Homo sapiens: one gene and its partners. The protein of the gene in region 1 purifies or fractionates together with the protein of each later gene. This does not show direct contact. Each region holds a gene or a part of one and is shown in the gene's direction. Other genes may lie near its edges. The genes, in order: FDCSP, FHIT, SLTM, SCAF11 and RRP36.

What was found.
Region 2: the proteins of FDCSP (region 1) and FHIT purify together in Homo sapiens (affinity purification with mass spectrometry; one large-scale study listed by BioGRID and IntAct). This does not show direct contact.
Region 3: the proteins of FDCSP (region 1) and SLTM purify together in Homo sapiens (affinity purification with mass spectrometry; one large-scale study listed by BioGRID and IntAct). This does not show direct contact.
Region 4: the proteins of FDCSP (region 1) and SCAF11 purify together in Homo sapiens (affinity purification with mass spectrometry; one large-scale study listed by BioGRID and IntAct). This does not show direct contact.
Region 5: the proteins of FDCSP (region 1) and RRP36 purify together in Homo sapiens (affinity purification with mass spectrometry; one large-scale study listed by BioGRID and IntAct). This does not show direct contact.

The regions. Positions count from the first base shown.
Region 1 is NC_000004.12:70,224,651-70,228,977, forward strand, and holds the start of FDCSP (follicular dendritic cell secreted peptide precursor), read left to right. Parts: upstream 1-1,473; 5' UTR 1,474-1,532; intron 1,533-4,327. UniProt on the Homo sapiens protein: Can bind to the surface of B-lymphoma cells, but not T-lymphoma cells, consistent with a function as a secreted mediator acting upon B-cells.
Region 2 is NC_000003.12:60,012,880-60,016,456, reverse strand, and holds part of FHIT (bis(5'-adenosyl)-triphosphatase), read left to right. Parts: intron 1-2,192; exon of another isoform or gene 2,193-2,239; coding exon of another isoform or gene 2,240-2,251; intron 2,252-2,304; coding exon 2,305-2,450; intron 2,451-3,577. UniProt on the Homo sapiens protein: Possesses dinucleoside triphosphate hydrolase activity. Cleaves P(1)-P(3)-bis(5'-adenosyl) triphosphate (Ap3A) to yield AMP and ADP. Can also hydrolyze P(1)-P(4)-bis(5'-adenosyl) tetraphosphate (Ap4A), but has extremely low activity with ATP.
Region 3 is NC_000015.10:58,930,816-58,935,033, reverse strand, and holds the start of SLTM (SAFB-like transcription modulator), read left to right. Parts: upstream 1-1,354; 5' UTR 1,355-1,468; coding exon 1,469-1,630; intron 1,631-1,721; exon of another isoform or gene 1,722-1,981; coding exon of another isoform or gene 1,982-1,984; intron 1,985-2,590; coding exon 2,591-2,678; intron 2,679-4,218. UniProt on the Homo sapiens protein: When overexpressed, acts as a general inhibitor of transcription that eventually leads to apoptosis.
Region 4 is NC_000012.12:45,918,616-45,921,664, reverse strand, and holds the end of SCAF11 (protein SCAF11), read left to right. Parts: 3' UTR 1-2,355; coding exon of another isoform or gene 2,356-2,391; 3' UTR 2,392-2,534; downstream 2,535-3,049. UniProt on the Homo sapiens protein: Plays a role in pre-mRNA alternative splicing by regulating spliceosome assembly.
Region 5 is NC_000006.12:43,024,617-43,027,431, forward strand, and holds part of RRP36 (ribosomal RNA processing protein 36 homolog), read left to right. Parts: intron 1-368; coding exon 369-516; intron 517-646; coding exon 647-713; intron 714-1,420; coding exon 1,421-1,525; intron 1,526-2,513; exon of another isoform or gene 2,514-2,561; coding exon 2,562-2,636; intron 2,637-2,743; coding exon 2,744-2,815. UniProt on the Homo sapiens protein: Involved in the early processing steps of the pre-rRNA in the maturation pathway leading to the 18S rRNA.

The DNA.
Region 1 (4,327 bases):
CAAGGACAGAAAATCATTTATGGTTTTCACAATTCAGTGGCAATTGCCAACCTCCATTAGAGCTATTTCAGATAAAAGAAATTGAAGTAGAATAAATTGAACGACAGGTTTTAGGTAAGGAAATGGATAATACACACACACACACACACACACACACACACACACACACACACCTGTCATCCCCATCCCTGGGGAAATGTACTATGAGCCCCAAATTGGTCAAAATATGTACAATAACATAACAGGTTTAATATATTAAGTTTCTGATTCAGGCAGTTTTCTTTAAATCATTGAGATAAGATTAAACGTTGAGTTATAGGTGAAGGAAGTAGTTTAATGTTTCTCTGGCTTTGTGCTGATTTTTCTAACCTTCTGTTAACAGTGACAGTATAAGGCACCAGTTATAAATGTGGGTTTTAGAACCAAATTGCTGGTGCTCAATTCAATATCTGCCAGAGACTAGCTGTAATACCCAGACTGATTACTAATATTCTCTGCTTCTCAGTCTCAAAATGGGATGGTGTTGATCATAGTACTTTCCTCTTAAGGTGGTTGTTTGGGAGATTTAATTATATTATATATATAAAGCATTTAAATTTGTGCTTCAGCACTTAAAGTCCTCAAAAAAACTTACCTGCTATTATTTTTCTGAGTTGCCTTGAGAACTGAATTCTAGAAAAAATAAAAAGAAGAAAAGGGACTTTGATGCACTACTACTACAATCTGGACTATATAACCTCTTTTGAAGTAGAAATCGAACTCAATAACAGAATATTCTTAAAAGCTCTCGAATTAGTTAAAGCTCAAATTTTATGACTCTTGAAAAAGGCATATACAATATGCACGCATATTTAAGGTAATTCTTGAATGTTTTGTGGGCCCTAGTTTCTGTTCCCGCACTTAATAATGATACCTTTTCTGCTGTAAGTGAATTTTTAGTTGAGAAATAGAGTATAGTGTTCCATAAGGTAAACAAGATGCTGTGGTGCTCCAAAAATACAATTCACTCATCTACGAAGCTCTAATCCTGATAATAAAATGAAGAAGTTGAAAGAAGAATCATGCAAAAGATTTTAATCCCATCTTAAACAATTTTTAGATTTTTTATTTTCTTAAGATTCCAGCACTATCAAATATGCTTTGCAATAGGTTATAATCAATACCAGTAAAATGCTTAGAGGTATTTTAAATTGTGGGAAGTAAAGGAAAAAATTGTGAGAGTAGACAATGGAGCAACAACATGTAAAGTGATAAACTTCAAATATACAAGACACAAAATTTGGAGAAAAAAACCACAAAAGATTTTGGTATTTGGTAGTTTCTAGGAAACTAAACATTGGTTATTCCCCAATTTCAACATATTGAGATAGTTGATGAGTAATAACTGATCCTAGGGGAGAGGCCTTTAAGCCACAGATTTCTCCATTCCATTATACCTTTGAGTATATAAAACAGCTACAATATTCCAGGGCCAGTCACTTGCCATTTCTCATAACAGCGTCAGAGAGAAAGAACTGACTGAAACGTTTGAGGTAAGAAAGGTCTTAAATATCATTGTAAACTAAGATTGTATATCTATTTTGTAAATATAGATATATAGCATCTCTCCATATATTTTTCTTTAAATCATAAAAATTTTAATTGTTGAGACTAAATTGTAATGGTTGCTTGAATTTGTAGACTTAGTAATTAGAAAACCATTTTTAGTATTCTGTTTGCAAAACTTTTTTTAAAATCACCACCCTGCTGTAGTAAATATTTATTTTAGAGTGACCATAAATGAATCTTTCTAGGAGTGGAGCACTGGTGGGGGAGAGTGTGGACAGAGTGAAACAACAGAGCCTCAGGTTTATTTTTAAATTTGTGGCCATCAGGTCAGCAAACAGAGGGAATACGCCCCGCCAGAGATTCTCTAAAGTCTGAGCAAGTGCCAATTTCTTTGGCCTCCTCTTTTATCTTTAAAATATATACAGTACTTACATTCCATTCCATAACATTTTATGTTGATTTTAATATAAAAGTCATTTGTCTTTCCCATAAACTCTTGAATAAAATTAATTATCTAGGAAGATGCATCTGATTTATCTGGAGAATCATTTATTCTACAGCACGCAGCAATAAACTGCTATGGGTATCATGACTTGATAAGTATAAAAATAAAAGGAGATAGCTGGTAATTATGCTGTGTCCTGACTCTAAGATATGATCTGGAAGAGTCTGTAATGTGGATTATTTACTTATTTGCTTAATGTAGTTTTGAATAATTCTTGAAACCAGTTGAAAGAAATTATATTGTAAAGGCCCTGCTTGAATTCTATTCTCTCCAAAACTATTTTCTCAACCTGCCTCTTTCTTCTTCTAAATACTCAAAATATTTTGCAATTTCTACATATGGTATATATCACGCTTTTTTTTCACATTACAGAAATATCTGTATCCATCTTCCATGTGGAAGTCTCAAGTGGAAGAAATTATGCTTTATCATTGTATCCCTGAAAGCACCCAGCATTGTTGCTTTGCACATAGAAAGTGGACTATGTATATGTATGTGTGTGTCTGTGAGGAGTATGTGTGAGTGTGTGCATGTGTGTGTTTGTATAATTTTTACTCTTGATTTCCTACATTAACAATCTGCCTGTAGAAGTCTGAACTTGACCGGAATTTTACATTCCTGTCTTCTCAAAATTATTAGATTATCTGGTACTTTTTTGAATTTGAATTCAAATTTTGATTAGTATCAGAAAATAAAGGCAGAGATCAAAACTTTGCTACATTTTTTACACTGCGTTCTTTTGTCTCATAGATGTATAGGAAACATCAAAAGGTGATAAAATTTCCCTAGAATCTCCACTATCTCAAAGGTACTTCAAAATGATAATGATATTAAAAATTGACATTTTCCCCAATGTAAAATATTAAATTAAATAGTCTTTAAAAAGCTTTGTAATGTATTTACTTATAACAATGTAACAGTGAGCTTAAAAGATCCATAAATCAGGGACTTTCCAAACTGATATTACAGGCAAACTTCAGAGATACTGCAGGTTCAGTTCTTGACCACCACCATAGAATGAGTATCAAAGTTAGGCAGGTCAAATGAATTTCTTGGATTCCCAGTGTACATAAAAGTTATGATTACACTACAGCATTGTATGTTAAGTGTAATAGCAGTATGTCTAGAAAAACAACATACATATCTTAATTAAAACATACTTTATTGCTCAAAAATGCTAACAATTATCTCAGTCTTCACTGAGTCATAATCTTTTTGCTGGTGTAGGGTCTTGCCTTGATGTTGATGGCTGCTGAATGATCAGGGTGATGGTTCCTGAAGGCTAAGCTGGCTGTGGCAATTTCTTAAAATAAGTCAACAATGAAGTTTGACACACAGATTGACTCTTCCTTTCACAAAAGATTTCTCTGTAGCATGCGATGTTGTAGCATTTTGGAGCATGTGAAGCATTTTGCCCACAGTATTTCTTTCAAAATGGGACTCAACCCTTGCAAACCCTGCCACTGCTTTATCAATTAAGTTTATGTAGTATTTTAAATCATTTACTGTCATTTGAAAAATATTCACAGCATCTTCACCAGGAGTAGATTCCATCTCAAGAAACCACTTTCTTTGCTCATCCATAAGAAGCCATTTTTCATTCATTCAAGTTTTACCGTTAGATTGAAGCAATTAAGTCACATGTTCAAGCTTCACTTCTAATTCTAGTTCTCTTGCTATTTCCACCACATCTGCAAGTTACTTCCTCCACTGAAGTCTTGAATCCCTCAAAGTCATCCACAAGAGTTGGAATCAACTTCTCCCAAACTCCTGTAATGTTGATATTTTGGCCTCCTCCTATGAATCACAAATGGTCTTAATGGCATCTGGAGTGGTGTATATTTTACAGAAGGTTTTTAATTTACTTTGCCCAGATCCATCAAATAAATCACTATCTGTGCCAGCTATAGCCTTACAAAATGTATTTATTTAATAATGAAACCTGAAAGTCAAATTTACTCTTTGATCCATAGGCTGCAGAATGGATGTTGTGTTAGCAGGCATGAAAACAACATTCATCTCTTTGTACATCTGCTTCAGAGTTCTTGGGGGCTCAGGTACATTTTCAATGAATGGCAATATTTTGAAAAAAACATTTTTTCCTAAGAAGTGAGCTGAAAATATTAGTAAACCATGCTGTGTTAGATGTACTGCCATCCAGGCTTTGTTGTTCCATCCACAGAGCACAGGAAGAGTAGATTTAGTATAATTCTTAAGGGCACTACGATTTTCTAAATGATAAATGAGCATTGGCTTCAATTTAGGAAACCAGCT
Region 2 (3,577 bases), on another chromosome or scaffold:
CAATCCACTGGTTAAATCACTCCCCAATTTTTAAAGTCCAGTTTAAATCTCATCTGCTCTAAGAAGTCGCCTTTGGTTTTCATCTACTGTGAGAAATCTCCTTGTCAGCTATACAACCTAAATTATAACTATTGACCTTCGCTTCCTTTAAAAAATATTATTGCTAAAAAAACTCTATACTCTAGATTATAGGGAGAAGTGGTAACCAGTTCCACAAGTTTTCACACATGATATGTACTGGATAAAACATTTATTCAATTCAATATAGTAACTTTAATTCTTTAAAGGTTATCCTACATGTTGGCTAAGAAATCTTGACAGAGGAGATAATCCCAAGCAAACAGGATCCAGAAGTAAATGTGTCTTCATAGCCTATGTATAATATGGAATTTACCCATTAACAAGGCCTAAGAGGCTCCAAATTAAATTATATTGCATCTGTGATATTATTTTAAAACAATTGGCATATAAAAAGTGGCATTAGAATTACAAAAGCTATCTGCTGTTCTTCTAATTAATTTGCTTTCCCTGAGTTGTTTTTCTAGGAGCAACATGCAAACAAGCAAAATTGACAAACAATAAGTTTTTTTATGGTGTTGAAAAAAAACATTTTTGGATGTCATTGATATTACTAAATTTACATTAGATACATAGGTTGTCTGATTTATTCCACCAGTTTTCACAGTAAGCCATTGTTGAAGTGAAATGTCTTCCTCCCCCACCGAGTTGCTGTGTGTGAACATAGCCTAACATAGCACTTATGGACTTCGTTGGAAGCTTGCATGGTTGTCACCCTTGCTGTGGTTTGGTGAAGTCAGGCCTAAGTGAGGGTGTAATTCAAATCAGGGAGGAGGAATATGGGGAAGGGTCCCTTTTAACACAGAAAAAGCAGCTTCGTGGGAGTGGAGGCTGGCAATCTGCTCAAAGGAAATGAAAGGAAATTCTTCATTTCTAAATGGTTCATTGACCCATGATAATAAAGCGGGCCTGCCAAAGATGGATAATTATCTTTTTAAGTATCAGATGCCCTGTGGGTGAACGCCTCCCTTCTCCTCTCTTGAAAAATGAACTCTGATTTTAAAAATGCTTCTTTTCCTAGTTTACCATTGACATGAATTTCCTGATTATGAGCAAAATTAATCAGTTTCTTCTTTCTCTTCCCCTCTCTCTTATGGAAATCAGGCCTGACCAGCTGAGCTCAGTTGTGTTTCCCCTTGGGCTCTGAGTTCTACCAATAGCGGAATGGGGTTGATATTCTAGTGAGACTAGCAATTGCAGAATTATGGTTTTATTATGCCCCTCAGCTGCTTAGCTCCAGGCAGGAGCATGCTGTCTTAAAACAACAAGAAAAAAGAAACAGAAAAACGTACAAGAGTTTGTTTCTCTTGTTAGTATCTAAAAACTAAACAAATATTTATATATATAGTGTGTGTATATACACATGTGTGCATACATGTGTGTATAGTGACTGAAATGTTATTGATGGTGTAACAGTGAATATTAATTTCCTATCAAGAAGTAATCAAATTTCTATCCTTTTTTCTCAGATCTTATATGTTGCTGAGACCAATAGTGTAAATACGTTGCCTTGTCTAACTTGTAGAATGCATTAAGAATGCTTTATTTGAATAAACAGACAACCTTTCGTTCATGATTTACCTTCAAATGTCTTCTTTTGGATTCTAAAAAAAAAATTAGTCTGAGGAACTCTTGTCATAAATTGCTTAACCACATGGCACCTCTCTTAGTTATGGATAAAGTTCACTGTACATTTTCAGAATGTCTATACTCTTTTAAAAATAAAATAAACATCTACTTTTGTATGTTCATTGCATAATTTTCTTATTTCTCTAAAGAGATAATTTAAATTAAAAATTTATCCCCATGTTCTACCTAGAGAAACCAAGTAGATATTCCAGTTGCTTTTTCAACCTAGTGCCTTTGGCTGCTGAAGCGGACACAGCTTTAGAATAGGGGTCAAGAGAGAATGATCTAGAATAGATCTTGCCTCCTCGCATAATTATCTCACCATACACTTGAGTCTGTCTGTACACGAATGTCCCTTTCTTTTGCAAGAAATTCTTCTGCATACCACAGCTTCTCCTTCAAAGTGTAATTATCCATGTATGGGAGCTCTCTTTCAACTCTCTGGAGTTCAGTGGATGGTAAATATCTGTTTCTTCATTCCTTAGTCTTTGAGAGTTCAGGCCCTGGTCCGAGAGGATTCAATCCTGTGGGTATGAACTGCTTGGTAAGAACACTACCCAAAGCCAGCAGCATGGGCCTTAACAGACCTTGCTACAGATGTCCTTGTGTGCCCGCTGCGGCCAGTGGAGCGCTTCCATGACCTGCGTCCTGATGAAGTGGCCGATTTGTTTCAGACGACCCAGAGAGTCGGGACAGTGGTGGAAAAACATTTCCATGGGACCTCTCTCACCTTTTCCATGCAGGTGAGTGTACAGATTTCTCAGAAATGATTTTTCTTCCCTTTCATATCCCGGCATTGGGCTTGCTCCTCCTGATATCTTACCAGGAGGGCAGATGTGATTGTTTGTATTTTAGGTAGCAGCCAAAAAAAGAGATTTCTAATGCAGGGCAACCCTACTGTCCATTGGCCCCAAGATGGACCGTGGGATAGTGTCTAAGGTGATGTCTGAGGCTTGTTTACCAAGCAGGTGGGAGTAATGGATAAGTGATTTAATGGACATTCAGACATTCCAAATTGCTTACTGGAACTGGGACTGGAAAAATCATTTTCATTCCATGGTAACTAATTTTTGAGCACTGCATAGACTAAGCCCTGCTCTAATTCCAGGGTGGCAGTGATATGCAGCTTAGGTTGGGCCTTACCTTTTGTCTGTCTTTAATTCAAGATGCAGAGATTGATCACAGATTAGTTAGAAGCTAGATTCACTGGTTGGGTGTGGCCCACTGACCAGTGAAGAAATCAGATCCCCAGTCACTGAAGATTTTTAGGCAGAGGTTGAGCCAACAGTTGTCAGGTTGGGAGAAGGATGTCCATGGTGAGTCATCAGTAGGGAATTGAGTAAATCCGTAGTAACATACCATGAGCTCCTTCAGGCCCTCTATGGAAAGGGCTGGGGTATCAATGTATAAAGTCCTTCATGGCTCTGAAATTGGATGACTCTGTAATTGCCCTTTAGAAGGACACACTTTCAAAATGTGAGGACTCTGTACTCAGCCTGTTAGTTAAACTGAATGTTTGCCATTCTTCCTCCCCTCCTTAGCTCTTTACCATAGAGCTTCAAAGAGACCAGATAAAGAAAGCCAGTGTTTTCAGGTTATGAAGGCTCTGACTAAAAGTGCTCATCTTCTTCTCAAACAGATTTTTTTCTTTCTTTTTTTGCTGCCATGTCTGTGTTAAGAGTAGCTAAACTTCCCCCAAATGCTTTGTGTGTATGTGTTGTATGTCAAACCATTTGAGTCCCCTTCAGGCAGGTAGTTCAGTTCAGAGTGGGTTTATCAAGCTTATGTTGCAAACCGTGTTTCTGGAGAGACTAAATGAAGGCAGTGAATGAAAACCTCTGTTAATGTTTAGTGAGATACAAGAATAAAA
Region 3 (4,218 bases), on another chromosome or scaffold:
GTATTTTTTGTAGAGACGGGGTTTCTACTAAACCCTGTATCTTGGCCAGTTTGGTCTTGAACTCCTGACCTCAAGTGATGGGCCAGAAGATTTCTAAGGAGTCTTGCATTCTAAACTTCTATTATTGTGAATCCAATGTTGTAGCAGAGACAGAGCTGGATTTGGAATCAGGAGCCTGGGATTTGAGCACAGCTCGGCCACATACCAGCTGTGTGAACATGGGCAAGTCATTTAATCTCTCTAAGCCTCACGGAGATTTACTTGACAGACTTGGGAAGGATTAAGGGGGTTACTGTACGTCAAAGTGCCTTATAAACTGTAAAGAACTACCCTAATGTCAGGTATTCTTTTATAATGTCCAGTCTTCCTTTTTTTTGAGCCAATCAGAAAAAGTAACCTAAAGTGAGTCAGATCTCAGGAATTTAAGTTGTAAAACCAGGAAATACAGTATAGTTAATTGTGCATCATAATCACCTTATGGAATTTATAGAATCGTTTTATTTTATCAATGCTTGCACTTTGATAATGAATAATACAAGGTAAAATTACAAATAGGTACTCACTTGTACAGGCCGATCCTCCATAAGAAGATGCTCACTGTTCTTGGAATCCCAAATTTTGGGGGGCAAAATAGTGAACACAGTATATGATAACGGCAACAAGTACTTATAAGCTAGTTTTCTCTTTCATTGAACAATTTCGTGTTGAGCCATCAGGTCTACCGGGGAGGATAGCAAACCTGAGGCCAACAAGAAAGAAGTTTTCCTGTTTTTCAAGTGAGGAAGGGCAGCCCTAGAATAACCTAAGCTGCCATGGGCAGGGCGATGATGTTTTCTCCTGAGACAGCCAATGAGCCATGTGTCAAAGGCCAGCCCTTCCTATTCTTTGGACTAACAGCCCTAGAACTGCTTTGAGGTCTTTTGAATGGAACTCGGGGAACCTAGTTCGTTGGTGCACACCGGCGACAATTTTTCGATTATTCAGCAGAACTGATAAAGTATTTCCTTGAGAGGTTCAGCGCGCGCACGCGCCCCCTCGGTTTGTGTTGAGTAACGCGCGCACTATGTCATTCAGTGCCCGCACATCGTTGTTGCTCAAGACTCAAGACGTTGCAAGAAAATGGCTAACGAAGCGACGAGAGAACGGCGGCGCGGCGGACGTTGCTGCGGTAGGACGTGCCCGACCTCCCAGTCCACACAAGGGAGCGCACCGCCCAAGTGGCCGCGGCCCGCTCGACCGAGCGCGCCGCTGCCGGTCCCTGCGCCAACGCGCACGCGCGGCCGTCATCCGGGTGCTGGCGGCTGCTGCTGCAGGTTGCGCTAGGGTGGCGGACCGGGGGAGGGGCCAGCGGCTCATTGTGCGCAGCGCTGCGCGGCGCCGGCGGCCGCCGAGGCCTGGGTGGAAGTTGGCGCTGCTGCCGCCGCCCTGCAGCCCACTCGCTGCCTCGGCAGCGCGCTGCTCTTCTAAGATGGCTGCCGCTACCGGTGCGGTGGCAGCCTCGGCCGCCTCGGGTCAGGCGGAAGGTAAAAAGATCACCGATCTGCGGGTCATCGATCTGAAGTCCGAGCTGAAGCGGCGGAACTTAGACATCACCGGAGTCAAGACCGTGCTCATCTCCCGACTCAAGCAGGTGAGGCCCGGCGAGGACCGGAAAGGACCGGGAAGGGGAACTTAGGCCGCGCCTCGGCGCCCCGCTTCCGCCGCAGCCTCCGGCTGCCCGCAGCCGCTGGGACCTGCGGAACGGCATGGTAGGGAGGCCAGGGGCGGCTCCCGCGAGCGTGGAGGACGGGGACCCTTCCGCGGTGCCCCCGCCCCGCGCCCCGGGCCGGGCCGGGCCTGCGAGGGACCGGCCACCGCAGCCCAGCGTGCCTCCGCCTCCCCGGGACGTCCCCGCCAGGCTGCGAGGGTTGCGGCCGGCCGGCGCGGCCTCCCAAGGGCGATCGCGGAGACCTGGGAGGCGCTGGCTCCCCAGCCTTTAGCCATGGTGAGCGTGTGCATTTCTTGGCCTCAGAGGGAATGGTTACTTTGGTGACTTCTGCGAAGTTACCGTTTAATTGTGCCCAACCGTTTCTTCCCCATCTTGAGGGGGAATTGGTAGTGGGAGTTGATGGGTGGGTGACAGAGTTTTTGTTTTCCACTAGGCTTTTAGTTTTTGCATCAGCGCAATAATTACTTTTTCTTTCCTGATTAGCTTTCTGGTTTGAGTGAGCGTTGGAATTGTAGCAGAGGAGCAGTAAGTTTGCATTACAGAAACTAGGAAAACTCTTTTTAGTTATTTACTTTAGTAGCTAGCAACTTTTCTGCAATAGAACATATTTGGATTTTTGGCCAGTATGATGTGATATTTAATTATCTTGACACGGTAGAATTTAAAACTCCTTGCGATTTTGATACCTAATGATTTTTTTCCCCTGAAAGTTTCTCTCACTCTTTCGTGTAGTTTAATTGCTCATTTTTGAAGTCGGTTGATGAAATGACTGGCAATTCTAATGTCTTGAGGCTTGAGGTTTGCTAAATTTTTTTTCATTTCGTTTTTATAAAATAAGTTTAGATAGATTGTGTAGCATATTAACTTCTCTTTCTAATGTAGGCTATTGAAGAGGAAGGAGGCGATCCAGATAATATTGAATTAACTGTTTCAACTGATACTCCAAACAAGAAACCAACTAAAGGCAAAGGTTGTTACGAGTTATGAACATGTTTTAAAATATATTTTGGTTATATAACTTGCCTCTGCTCTTGTGCCTCTTGCCCTGTTTATATAGTGCTACTCTTTGCTATTTCCCTCTGGCAGTCTGCCTTCTTGGGTCAAGGAAGAAAAGTTACTGTTGCCAGGCTTTGGGTGACTTGTAGCCCTTAAGATTCGGCTGAAGCTGATTAGAAAGTGAGAACAGTTCTTTATTGCTTCCGGAAAAAATTACAAAGTCAAGTTGTGTAATGATGCTTCATAGTGTGAAGACCTGAATAAAATACAGTTTAACACATGTCTACCTTGCCCCACAATTGGCAGAGTTTTGATGGAATTCCTACCAAATCTTTTACCTTGCCTCCTTGCTGTTTTCTTTAGTATATTAAAATTCTATAACCTTTATGTTTAGTACTTTGTTTGACTTGGTGAACTTAATTTGCATTTATGCCATTATACCTCCTAATTTTTAGTGAAATTCAAAAAGACCTCACCAATCATACTAACAAGGTAGAGGGAAAAATCCATGATTAATTAGCTTAAAAAAGTTTTAAATTATAGGGATGTTAAAGATTCTTATTTTTAACTTTTAAGCTAGAGCAAAATATATTTATTTCTAGGATATAATGATTTAGTGACTAGCTAAAAGTGGTTTTAAATGAACGTTTTGCAGTATGAATGGAACTTAGGTATTTTTTAAAGCTTCTTGGTAAATGAAACCTTTATTTGAATAACTGCAAATTTCTCCCTCCTATAAGGACAGTGGCAGAGGGTGGACATGATATATCTGGATTCTGGTCTTTACCTACAATTTTCATGCAGAGTTTGTCATGAACAGCTGCTGCATTTTTTGTAATCTAATTTTCTTTACTGCTTTAAGTGATCCAAGTGTTACTCCCAACCACTGAATGATTGCAACTAAAATAAAATGAATGGATTAATATTGAAAAGGGAATATTAAATTTTGATCTTAAGCACACCTGGGTATCAGAGATGAGGACAACTCACTATTTTAAGTCTTCCTAGGTTAGGAGAGTCCCCTGTTTGTGCCAAAGGAAATTGAAAAGGGCTAATAAGCATTCCCTGGGAGAGGTGGGGATGTAGTTTAGAGAAGTAAAAAAGTTATCTTAAAGGTAGCTTTTAAGATAACTCTGACTCAGTGTATCACTTTGAGAGATACATTTTCTGTATTTAAAGAAGCTTGTCATGAGAAGACTGCCAACAAACCAGAGGCTATTTCAAAATGGAAAACGATAGAAATTCAGAAATAAGTATATCAGGAATTAACCATGTGTCTTGCAGTAGTTTTGATTCATATCTTTTACCTAGCATGCTGTGCTAGTTTGACAGGTACTGTGTATTAATCATAGTCCCAGGTTGTTTGAGTTGACTATTATTTTAGCATTGAAAATAAACATGATTTATTCCTTTCTCACCTACTTTTAATTTCTCTGTATATCCCTTTTTCAGTTTTGACTAGGAACATCATTTATCTCTTATTATTAGAAATAATTTCAGCAATATAAAATTTT
Region 4 (3,049 bases), on another chromosome or scaffold:
GGTTAAAATGTAAAGTATGATCTTTATGATTTTTTCCCTCTAATTATAGAAAGTTAAATAATGTATTACCATGAAAAATGTTTCTAATATTAAATAGAACATATCAGTTGCAAAGTTCCTAATGTGTATTTTTAAAGCACATATCTGAATAAATTGCCTAGATAGAAAAAAAATTATCACGAGTAAAATTTAGTGTTCAAAACATTGAGACACTCTTCACCTATTGTATGACCAAATAAAGGTTATGCTGCTTGTTTTTCTTTTGTGCCTTTGTTTACCCCTAATTGAGATAAGCAGTTTGACTTACTAGATTACAACTTTGGCAGTTCAAAGTCTTTGTTGAAGACTTTGAGGAAAAAGATTTGGAAAAATTGTTGACTTTCGGCCGGGCATGATGGCTCACGCCTGTAATCCCAGCACTTTGGGAGGCCGAGGTGGCGGATCACCTGAGGTCAGGAGTTCGAGACCAGCCTGGCCAACATGGTGAAATCCCGTCTCTACTAAAAATACAAAAATTAGCCAGGCGTGGTGGTGGGCGCCTGTAATCCCAGCTATGCGAGAGGCTGAGGCAGGAGAATCAGTTGAACCCGGGAGGCGGGGATTGCAGTGAGCCGAGACCATGCCATTGCACTCCAGCCTGGGCAACAGGAGCAAATCTCCGTCTCAAAAAAAAGAAAAAAAAAAGTGTTGACTTTGTAGAAATTATGTTCTTTCATAGTATCTTCTTCTACCCGTTGCAGACGATAAATTATTTGTGCCAATTCGAGAATTGCTGTTAGGCTGTTATCCTCCCTTCCTTGGGGCTAAGAATTACAAGACTCATGGCACTGGCGTAAAGTTGTTGTTTATCTAATCACTGATGAAATATTTTCACACTTGAAAATCCCCAAATGCTTTACAATGAATGAAGTGTTAATTTGGTGACCAGGTGGTAGCCATTAGCCATGTTGCAAAATTCTAGACAGTAAAACCTGTGTTTTAGAAACAGAGGGGAAATTTAAATAATGGAGTCCTGGTTAGCCTTTCAGGGATTAGGGATTTGGGTTTTTTTTTTTTTCTCTTTTTAATACTAGAATATCTCAGTTTTTATAAAAGGTAAGTTTAAAATGTTTATTGTGCCATTATTTTAACTGGCATCTTGAAAGAACAGTAGGTTTTCTCCATGATAAACTGATTCCAGTAAGAATTTTCAGTACATACCAAGTACCTGGAAAGTTCTTCAGATAAGTTAATAGATCCAAGGAGATACATGCCTCAGTGAGATAAACTGACCTTTTTACTAGCTAAACTATTTAGCCAGAGCAATACTCTGTAGAACTGTGCTTTTCTAAAGTAAAGATTATCTGTTTCTCAATTTTATGTGCATAATACTTTTCCTGGTGCTAGCTTTGATAGGCAAAATATTTTGAAATGTTGGTCCCATAATGATTGTGCTAGTTCATAAGCTTTGTTGTTATGAGTGTAATCATAAAAATATTTCCAAGCAGTTTTTGACCTTTATTCTACATTTCTGGGCATTTGTAATATGGTATTCTACTGGTATATATTTTTAAAGTTTGCGTTTAGATTATGGTAAAGAAATTTCAAGCATATTTCTTCTAATAAAGTATTAAGACAGTGTTTCAGAATATCAAGGCACACCTCCTTAGTTGTTTTAGATTAGAACTCTAGAAACAATTTTGTGAACATTGAAAGTATTTTGAGTTAAGCCTAAGCTGATTAATCACACAATACATACTTTTCCTGCATTTTCTTTCAGTGACATTTGAGAATTGGGTGACATTTTAAAATGTGTTTTATACCATTTAGCTTTTGCAAACAAGTTCTAAAGTTTTGGAGAAAAAGTGATGTGGTCAAGAGTTGAAGTCTCATATATCTTTAGTAGCACTCCCATGAATTATTTCCGTGACAGTAACAAGTGTGTGTTCCATGTCTGATTTGGGGCACTGGTTAGACTGCATTAATAGCTACTTGATTAGAATTCGAACTTTTAAAATTTTGAAATGTTTAAGAATGTATTAGAAAATGCATGCTTTATGTTGAAAAAATACATTGCTTTAATATTCCTCATTCTTGAGTTAAGAAATTTATGTTAATTTTGCATGGGCACAAACTTAATCAGAAACATTTTGTGGAGTTACATTTCCTCTTATTATTTATCAAGGTTCAGTATTGATCTTTGAAACCTTGGTCCCGTTAACTTACTAGTCACATTGACCAATGTTTTATAGAAATGCCTAGAATTTTGAGACTAATAGTAGTTATCCATTAACATTCCAAAAGTTTTGTGCTTTTTAAAATTTGTTTTGGTAATTATCACATTTTTTTCTCTTACCTTCCTTTAAATGGCCACAGTGTGTACTGCTGGAATGTTCCATCCAAAAGATGTAGCTTCAGAAGCACAGTGATTGCCCCAGGGTCCATGAGATATTGTTTGTATTATGAAGTTGGAGTGCTGTCTACTGAAATTATACTCTTAAATAAATATGTATGTAGTGTGTAATATTTTCTAATAAATTCTTTTGATAAACTAATGTCTTTAACATTTTATTATTAAGGTTCCAGGGGAATGGTGACTTTTCAATTATAATCCCTTACAAACGTATTGAAGTGTTACTTGGATTTGTACCAGTCATTCGCATCATGGTTACGTAATACCCAAGCTCTAAAGCAAGCTTAGAGTTAGCTATAAGCATATATTTTAATGGCATTTTCCCCTGATTACATAATTATTGTAAGAAATTAGAAAAACTTTAGTAAATGTGTAAAAGAAGAGACTGAAAAAGGAGAAAAATCACCTGTAATCCTACCAAAGGTAATAACTAATGCCAAGCAAACTGCACATAATATGTTGTAACCTTTCATTTTCACTTGACGTACTGAGAACTTTCCATTTTAGTAAAAATTACAGCATGATTTATACTGGCTGTATAATATTCTCTTTTTTTTTCTTTTTTTGAGATGGAGTCTCGCTCTGTTGCCCAGGCTGGAATGCAGTGGCGCCATCTCAGCTCACTGCACCCTCCACCTTCCGGGTTCAAGCAATTCT
Region 5 (2,815 bases), on another chromosome or scaffold:
GAGATGCTGAGCATGTGGACCAGGACACTGGCAATGGTAACTGAGCAAGGGAGGCAGATGCCCTTCTGGGGAAACCTGTGAATGAGTAAAAGAGAGAGTAAAAGAATGAGTAAAAGAGAAAAAGAAGGGACTATGGTTTGGTGCACCTTTGACCTTACATATACACCTTCCTTAGCAAGATGAGGCCCCAGGTTGCTGAAATAGTTGGAGAGTTTAACACTATCACAGCCTCTGCTGCCTAGGACTTCTAATAATGATTGGTCTGATGGGGTATTAGGATTAGCTAGCTAAGGAATGGGGATGGGAAGATGTCTTTTCTGCAGTGGGACATGCTGAGCTGAGTTGTATGTCCCTCCCCACTTCCACAGGCACATCTAACATGTCATTTGAGGAGCTGTTGGAATTGCAGAGCCAAGTGGGGACTAAGACGTACAAACAATTGGTAGCTGGAAATAGTCCTAAGAAACAAGCTTCTAGACCACCTATCCAAAATGCATGTGTTGCAGATAAGCACAGGTAAGCAAGGCTTGCCCTAGAAGTTGGAAGATAACTGGGACCTTGAATAGGTATGTTGTCTTGGGTGACAGGTGGGAAGCCTTTGACCAACACTGGAGTCCTCTTGACTTGGCTTTTAATTTCTCCATAGGCCTCTGGAAATGTCAGCCAAGATCCGAGTACCATTTTTACGTCAGGTTGTTCCCATTAGTAAAAAGGTAAGGAAGAAGGCCAGGCACTGTGGCTCACGCCTGTAATCCCAGCACTTTGGGAGCCCGAGGTGGGCGATCACCTGAGATCAGGAGTTCCAAGACCAGCATGGCCAACATGGTGAAACCCTGTCTCTACTAAAAATACAAAAATTAGCTGGGCATGGTGGTGTGTGCCTGTAGTCCCAGCTGCTTGGAAAACTGAGGCACAAGAATCGCTTGAACCTGGGAGGTGAAGGTTGCAGTGAGCCAGGATCATGCCACTGCCCTACAGCCTGTGGGACAGAGTAAGACTCTGTCTCAAAAAAAAAAAAAAAAAAAAAAATAGAGGCCGGGCGCAGTGGCTCATGTCTGTAATCCCAGCACTTTGGAAGGCCAAGGTGGGCGAATCACGAGGTCAGGAGATTGAGACCATCCTAGCTAACACAGTGAAACCCCGTCTCTACTAAAAATACAAAAAAAAATAGCCGGGCGTGGTGGCGGGTGCCTGTAGTCCTAGCTACTCAGGAGGCTGAGGCAGGAGAATGGTGTGAACTTGGGAGGCACAGCTTGCAGTGAGCCGAGATTGCACCACTGCACTCCAGCCTGGGCGACAGAGCGAGACTGTGTCTCAAAAAGCAAAAAAAAAGAAAGATGAGGAAGAGACAGGAAGCACTTTTTCTCAGTGAAAGGAGATTGAACAGTTGTGTTTTATATTCTCTCTCTTCTCTCCAAAGGTAGCCCGGGACCCTCGCTTTGATGATCTGTCAGGGGAATATAATCCTGAGGTGTTTGACAAAACATACCAATTCTTGAATGACATCCGAGCGAAAGAGAAAGAGGTATACAGCTTGAGACTGGTTTATGGGGAATTTTGTGGGGTGGAAAATGAGGGCACAGGTTAGAGAGTTGGGCAGGGGGAGTGGGAAGTATAGTGGTGGGCAGATTTAACTCTCTCCAATTCAGTTCATATTCAAATCCTGGCTCATCAGTTTACTAGCTGTGTGATTATTGGCATGTTACTTAATCTCTCTATGCTTTAGTTTTCTAATCATAAAAAAATAAAATAATAATTACTGTCTTGGAGGCCGGGTGTGGTGGCTCACGCCTGTAAGTAATCCCAGCACTTGGGGAGACTGAGGTGAGCACATCATTTGAGGCCAGCAGTTCCAAGACCAGCCTGGCCAACATGGTGAAACCCCATCTCTACTAAAAATAGAAAAATTAGCCAAGTGTGGTGTTGCATGCCTATAGTCCCAGCTACTCAAGAGGCTGAGGCATGGGAATTGCTGGTGCCCTGGAGACAAAGGTTGCAGTGAGACAAGATCGTGTCACTGCACTCCAACCTGGGCAGCAGGGCAAGACTGTCTCCAAACAAACAGTTACTGTCTTGGTGTTATCAAGTTAATATATGTGAACTTCTGGCCGGGTGCGGTGGCTCATGCCTGTTATCCCACCACTTTGGGAGGCCGAGGCAGGTGGATCACGAGGTCAGGAGATTGGGACCATCCTGGCCAACATGGTGAAATTAGTCTCTACTAAAATACAAAAGGAGGAGATCAAGATCATCCTGGCCAACATGGTGAAATTTAGTCTCTACTAAAATAAAAAAAAAAATTAGCCGGGCGTGGTGGCACGTGCCTGTAGTCCCAGCTACTTGGGAGGCTGAGGCAGGGGAATTGCTTGAACCCAGGAGGCGGAGGTTGCAGTGAGCCAAGATCACACCACTGCACTCAAGCCTGTGACAGAGCAAGACTGCATCTCAAAAAAAAATGTGTGTGTGTGTATGTGTGTGAACTTCTTAGGATAATGCTTTACATAAAATTTCAGCTAACATTTGCAGAATGCTAACCATGATACTCATTTTCCAATGTGGAGCTTGTGAAAAAACAGTTGAAGAAGCACCTTTCAGGAGAGGAGCATGAGAAACTGCAGCAACTGCTTCAGCGAATGGTGAGTGGGTAATAATTGTGGTGGGTAATGAAAGCAATTAAAGGTGGGAGATATTCACAGATCTGAACAGATCCCTCCCGTTCACCCATCTCATCTTTGCTCCTCAGGAGCAGCAAGAAATGGCACAGCAGGAACGAAAGCAACAGCAGGAGCTGCACCTGGCCCTGAAGCAAGAACGT